2 linked regions of the Homo sapiens genome follow. The protein of the gene in region 1 purifies or fractionates together with the protein of each later gene. This does not show direct contact. Each region holds a gene or a part of one and is shown in the gene's direction. Other genes may lie near its edges.

Evidence for each region.
Region 2: the proteins of ALKAL2 (region 1) and POTEE purify together in Homo sapiens (affinity purification with mass spectrometry; one large-scale study listed by BioGRID and IntAct). This does not show direct contact.

Annotation. Positions count from the first base shown.
Region 1 is NC_000002.12:278,725-282,461, reverse strand, and holds the end of ALKAL2 (ALK and LTK ligand 2 precursor), read left to right. Parts: intron 1-2,309; coding exon 2,310-2,315; 3' UTR 2,316-2,904; downstream 2,905-3,737. UniProt on the Homo sapiens protein: Cytokine that acts as a physiological ligand for receptor tyrosine kinases LTK and ALK, leading to their activation. Cytokine-binding is sufficient to activate LTK. In contrast, ALKAL2-driven activation of ALK is coupled with heparin-binding to ALK.
Region 2 is NC_000002.12:131,247,536-131,251,035, forward strand, and holds part of POTEE (POTE ankyrin domain family member E), read left to right. Parts: intron 1-3,242; coding exon 3,243-3,313; intron 3,314-3,500.

The DNA of each region.
Region 1 (3,737 bases):
GACAGCAGGATGCAACTGTAATTTCACCAATTTTATACTTACTATGTGTCTTGTATATGTGGGCACTGCCAGATGCTGGCTACACCAGCACAAGAAAGACAGGCTTCCTGTCCATTGATAGCTGTCCGGAGCACATTCATGAAAAGGGAGTATTTTTATAGTGGTTACTCTAGTTTCTCTCATGTAAAATGGATGAGGGTAGGGTAGTGCTCTTTCCTATATAGATGTGCTCTCTATGCAGAGGCAGTGCTTATGAATATTTAGGTAGCAGCAGAAGGGTTGTGTGCATGACCCCAACACCGGCAGGAGGCATGGCGGGTCCTGCCCATGCATCCCCCACTCCATCTTTCCCAGTAGAAGAAACTGCTGCTAATGAGAGGAATGGCACTGGGGGAGGGAGGCCAGTGGGTAATGGCGGGTTGAGACTGCATTTTGCACAGTTTCACTGCACTTTTTCTTTGGAGATAGTGAAGGTGTCAATGTCAGTCAAAGCTGGGAAGTGCTGTGTAGTAATGTCTCCCCACATCCCTGCTCTTTCCAATTCTCTCGAGCAGCTCATCCACTGCCTATGTGTCACACAGACTTTCTTCTGTTTAAATCAGTGAACAGATGTACATTCCTGTCACCCAAGGTGATATGCCAGGGGAGATGAGAATTTTTTTTTTTTTTTAGGTATTTCTTTATAATTAAACACAGTGTTCCCAGAGATGGGCCAGGGACATCCTTGGAAATTTTCCACTTACTTACAAGTGAGGAGAGCAAATTCCCCACTGTCTCAGCCACTGGAAGAGCTACTCCGTCCACATGCCCATTAGCCGACCCCTGCCTCCCCTCCGCTGGCTGCTGCTGGAGGCAGGTGCAGTTACACTGAAGGACGTGGTCATGTCAGTGGGACTCAGGCTCCTGTATGGGTCTCTGCGTGCGCACGTCCTGCTTTGCAAACGCCACAGTGATGCCCTGCAGAAAAGCTGTGGCAGAATCCCCTTGATAGTCCCCAGCACTCTTCACATCACTCTCCCCATCACCAGACAACCACATCAGAGCCTGACTGACGATGAGATGCAGGTAAAGGTAACAAGACAAGGCCCAGGCTCGCAAGCTTCTGTCCCCAAAAGGCCACCTGCTTGACAGCCACAGGTGTCACAGCTGTAACTGGGTTCATTTTGGCCAAGAGATAGGTAAAGTTTAAAATATTGATACCCTGTTAACTATAATTTCATAACTCCTATTTTTTAAAGATAATTTCTTCAAATTCCAAAAGTTTTAAACAGCAACAGCAAATTGTTACTGGTGTTAACAAATTGTTAAACAGCAACAGCAAACTCTTACTGTGGCTGGTCACCACAGTGTAGATACAGTCCGGGCTTTCTCTGTGCTTTGCAGACCTCAGTGAGACACCAGAGGGCAGGGCAGGTGTCCCAGGGTGCCCACACTCGTGTGACGGTGTGGCATCAGGCAGGCCCTGCAGTCCCAGTTCTGCTGGTTAACCTGCCACATGCACTTCTGTCCTGACACACAAGGATGGCAGGGCAAGACCGTAAACCATGACCTTGTCTTTGTAAAGAAAGGCCCAGAGCCTGAGAAAAGCAGGCCTTTAGCAGGAAGGGCTCTGCCCTCCTCACCTCAGAGCAAATCCATTTGCCGCGTTCTGAAGCTCATTAATAGACCTCCTCAGGCCAAAGAGAACAATGTCCCCACCAACCCTCCCTAACAGTCACAGATACACTTCATTGTCCGGACTTACAGGTCAGTTAATCAGAAGCCTGAGCTCTGGAATATTGTCAAAGAAATGGAGTTTTGAGTAGTGAGTACATGGTGTACTCTCCCAAATGCAGCCTAATCTTAGTAACCTTGAAGTTTATCATTCTTTAAAAATAAATAGAATACCAATGGTTTAGATATTCCAACAAAGAATGCTAGAAACAAATGTCTAATCTCGATTATTAGCTTTACCAACCCTGTGAACACTGAGGTTGCAGAACTGCCAGGTTAATCCCTGTGGCCTAGACTACTGAGGATTCTGATAGCACATGTAAGACTAAGCACTCTTCAAGCTGTAATAAAGCATCCACATGTATCTGTGATGATTTTCATTGCTTTAGCATTGCAGCCATGTAACAACTGCAGAAAGAAGGTATTTTTAAAAATACAATAGACTACACTTTTTGGATCACAGAGAAATACAGATGCACTCTGAGACTGCCTATGTTTATAAACATGTTGTGTCCCCTAACTGAAGTGACAGGTCTTCTGGAATTGACATTAAGAAGTGTGGATAGTCATATCACACGCAATGTATTTGTTTTCAGCAGTGAGCAGACCGTACAGGAGCAGCACACCAGGAGCCATGAGAAGTGCCTTGGAAACCAACAGGGAAACAGAACTATCTTTATACACATCCCCTCATGGACAAGAGATTTATTTTTGCAGACAGACTCTTCCATAAGTCCTTTGAGTTTTGTATGTTGTTGACAGTTTGCAGATATATATTCGATAAATCAGTGTACTTGACAGTGTTATCTGTCACTTATTTAAAAAAAAAACACAAAAGGAATGCTCCACATTTGACGTGTAGTGCTATAAAACACAGAATATTTCATTGTCTTCATTAGGTGAAATCGCAAAAAATATTTCTTTAGAAACATAAGCAGAATCTTAAAGTATATTTTCATATAACATAATTTGATATTCTGTATTACTTTCACTGTTAAATTCTCAGAGTATTATTTGGAACGGCATGAAAAATTAAAATTTCGGTCATGTTTTAGAGACAGTGGAGTGTAAATCTGTGGCTAATTCTGTTGGTCGTTTGTATTATAAATGTAAAATAGTATTCCAGCTATTGTGCAATATGTAAATAGTGTAAATAAACACAAGTAATAAATGAAGTGTTTGTTATAATGACTAGTCTTCAAAGTGACTCTCTACCTCTTTAACAGGTTCACTGTTGGGAATTCGTGACTTCTGATTTACTGAGAGATCATGACACTGGCAAAAGGTCATAGAATATGAAAGCCATAAACAAATGAAAACTTGAAGCCTAAGAATTTCTCTAAGGGATAATTAGCATTTTTTTTAAAGTAAAGGCTACTATATATTGGTGACATAATTTCCTAAGATAGTCCCTGATTTGCTGGGAAATATTCCAAATAAGGTTGTATCCATTATTTCCCAAGCGATTTTGTAATCATGAAAATGCTTAACTAGGAGAAACCTTAAGACTTCTAAGCAGTCTCAGAATTTTAGATGTAGATGTATTTTAAACAAATCTAATTGGATCCAATTTAAAAAGCTGAATTCGGCAAAGCAATGAGTTTCTCCATTCATATGAGCCCTTGTCGGCAGATGGTATCGTCTGGGTGTAGCCATAAGGACAGAATAGTCAAGAGTCCTAGGATTTGTTTGAGGATCTGTATTTATAGAGATAAACATTAAAGAAAAACTATAGGATTTTATTTCCAAACATAAAGGAATAGAAGAGTAAGAAATTTTGACTTTGAGATTAAAAGCAATTACTGAATGAAGAGAACAGGGTGTAACTTTTGAAGTGCTCTTATTTAATCCTGTTTTCTAATTACAGCTCATTACTTGACCTTTCCTTCCCCATTTTTTATGTTTTAAGGATTTCATGTTCAAATATCCAATCTATTAATATTTAATCCCCTCAGTTTTCTGTATGTCTGAGTAATTCCAACAAGAGCAAGACTCACTGGGTTTGCAAACTTTCTTCCTATGAA
Region 2 (3,500 bases), about 130 Mb from region 1:
CTGGGAAGGTAAATATCTGATTAGCTTAGAATAAACATTTCTTTCTGAGGCTGAGGAGGGGGATTGGGATATTAAATATCCCAATAGACTTATGTTTTTTCTGCCAGAAAGAATGAGGAATGGCTATTGATAGGGAGCCAACAATGTGTGCTGGAGGGGGCTCATTGGAGAAATTTGAGCAGGGGAGCCACAAGATTAAATTTGAGTATTAAGGCATTCTGGTTATGGTGTAAAATGGGTTAGCAAGCTTTTTCTTTAAAGGACCAGGTGGGAAATATTTTGGACTATGTGGTCTCTGTCATATCTACTTAACCGTGCTGTTGTCTGCTGTTGTAGTGTGAAAGCCACCATGATTATATGTAAGCAAACAGGCATGACTGAGCTCCTATAAAACTTTATTTACAAAACCATAATGCAGATTGGATTTGGCCTGTGGCCTATAGTTTCCTGGGATTGATGGGAGATAATCATGCAAAGAAACCAGGAGACAAAGGAAGCTTTTGCAGTAGTCAGCTATAGTTTCCATGTCACACATCCTTGGAGTAGCATCAATGTATTACAAGGTTTTCACCCGTCCATGGTGAAATAAATAACGTTAGAAATCTCAGTTACTCATTTTACTATGTTGGCCTTCGTTATGCCCTTTTCACTTGTTTTGCTTAATTTTTTTTCCTGTAAGAAATAACATTAATAGTTGGCAGTTTTCTTTTAAATAGAAGTCATTTTGTAAATGTTTGTGTTCCCAGTGGCAGTGGGAATATAAAACAGAGGCAGAAGAGAGGTATAGTCAATATGATTTAGTGATAATTGAATGAGAAAGGCTTGGGGGACAGAGAGAAATCTCAGATGATGTACAGGTTTCCAGATTGCACACTAGTATTTAACCTGGACATGAGGAAGGAGTAGGAAATTTTCTGGTGAATACAGAAGAGCAAAGAGCAGCAGGTCAGCAGGAATGACTAATGTTTTTCGATGCATGTTTAATGGAATATTCGTGTAGGGTATTTTGAGTAGGTAATTGGATAATCAGCATTTATAACTCGCATCCTACTAGTTTGACTCTAAGTAATAAGACTTGTCAAAGATCCAAGAATCTGAAAGTCAGTAATAAATGTCCATGTGCATCATCGTCCGTGACAGAAAGTCAGCATCCACAGAACACAGAATTGGGACAGATGAACTTAATAGATAAAGATGAATATCGGAGTTGTTCCTCTTAGGGAATGATACTCTCCATGACCTGTGTGAGTCACAGCTGCCAGAAAAGAAAGAGCAAGGAGCGTATGAAGGCAGCACAGCAAATTCGGTCCTAGAGTGCCCTGCTTGGCTTCATGTCATAGTTCTGACTTCTAAATAATCATTTTCTGCAAAATGTGCTTTGTGTTTTTCCCTCTTGCCGCCTGCAGCCAATCAGAATCTTTTTAGCAGGACATAATGAAAAGAAGTAAGAGAAAGAGTGTTTTTTTGTAATGGGATAGTATTTAACGTAAACTTGAGAGTGAGTACCAGGATTATACTTAGAATTTATGGACTGGATGGGAAGACTGGATAGAAATCTAAAGATTGCTGACTCAAACACAATGTGGTTTCTTTGATTTATTTTCACAGCTCTGAATTCACGACTGTTAATTGTATTCATATGCATTATAACTTTACAAAGCATCTTCCGAAACCAAATATTTACTGATTTATTATAATTTGTATGACTTTATTATAGAACTGACTTTCCAAGTGTTCATGAGAATTGTTTAGAATTTGCTACATTGTATCATCTCAGCTGTGTCCACATGAGCTATCTGTCACCTTGTCTTAATGAATAATTGTTCACTAGGAATATTGGTTTTGGCATTGAAATGATCTATATCTAAATGCAGATAGGACCCGGGACCACTTTTGAACATTAATGTTCAAGCATCTTAAAATTACACATAATGCTTTCATAATCTGACTTCTGCCCCACTCTCCATCTTTAGCCCTTTTCCCTGTGTGCCCTGTCTCTGGCATTACTGAACTGCTGGCAGTGCCCTACTCACTCATCCTTCTATTGTAGGCAAATACTTTCACTCTTTCAGGAGTCGCTCCCGCTCTTGCTGCTGCGTGGCATGCCGTCACCCTTTCCTGCCCTCTACACCTTTTAATCTGGCTAGTCTCAATATTTAAGTCTCTGCTTGGGCATGTGTTCTAGAAAAGCCATCTCTGACATGCTTTATTTTAATTCTTTTTAAACCCTAATGCCTAGCATGTATTTAGCAGGACTCAATAAAATATTTCTGAGTAAAACAAAGACTGTTTTTACAAAGATGATGTGCAAGACTCTCCCCTGCAGTCTTGGAGCAGAGGGGACAGACGTGGAGGAATAATGTACAGTTTAGGTGGTCAAGATGCAGTAGAAAAATCAGTAAAGTACTAAGGCAGCCTCAAGGAAGGAGGTACCTGTTTATTTGGGGAAAGACATGCAGAATCAAGGAAAACTTCATATAGCATTGTTTCAAAAGATGAAAATAAGGCCAGGTGTGGTGGCTCACACCTGTAATCCCAGCACTTTCAGAGGGAATCACGAGGTCAGGAGATCGAGACCATCCTGTCCAATGGTGAAACCCCATCTCTACTAAAAATACAAAAATCAGCTGGGTGTGGTGGTGCTTGCCTGTAATCACAGTTACTCAGGAGACTGAAGCAGGAGAATCACTTGAACCAGGGTCGCGGAGGTTGCAGTGAGCTGATCACACCACTGCATTCCAGCCTGGTGACAGAGGAAGACTCTAGCTCATAAAAAAAAAAAAAGAAAAAAGAAAAAAAGAAAATAAATTTGTCAGAATAGTGGAGAGAAACATTTTAGATATTAGGAAGATGTTGTACACTAATAAAGGTGTCAGCAGTGATTTTGGAAATCATTTATAAGGTACTATTAGGAAGTGGAGAACAGTACACTGTGTCACCTTATATGTTTCTACTGTATTTTAAAGCTGTGTTTCTGGTGGTTTTGTTCATGGATGTTGGGTGGATGAATTTGTGAGGGAATTTTTGACATGTTTGTTTGTCTTCAATCTGGTGACATCTGCTATCTCCCCAAGTGGGTTTTTGAAGTTTTTGAGAATTATTTCTTAAATGACAATTTCACAAAAGATGAAACACTCAATTTATGAAATAAAATGAAATGTCTCAAATCTGTTTTTAAAAGGCAATAGTTTTTAACTGTTTTAAGTGGTTGATTTTAACTGAATGTATGGATTTTTCAACAGAACAAGACTTAAAGCTGACATCAGAGGAAGAGTCACAAAGGCTTAAAGGCAGTGAAAATGGCCAGCCAGAGGCATGGAAACTTTTAAATTTAAACTTTTGTTTAATGTTGTGTTTTTTTTGCCTTAATAATATTAGATAGTCCAAATGAAATTACCTTTCAGACTAGGCTTTGAGAATCAGTAGATTGTTTTTTTAAGAATCTTTTGGCCAGGCAAGGTGGCTCACGCCTGTAATCCCAGCACTTTGAGAGGCTGAGG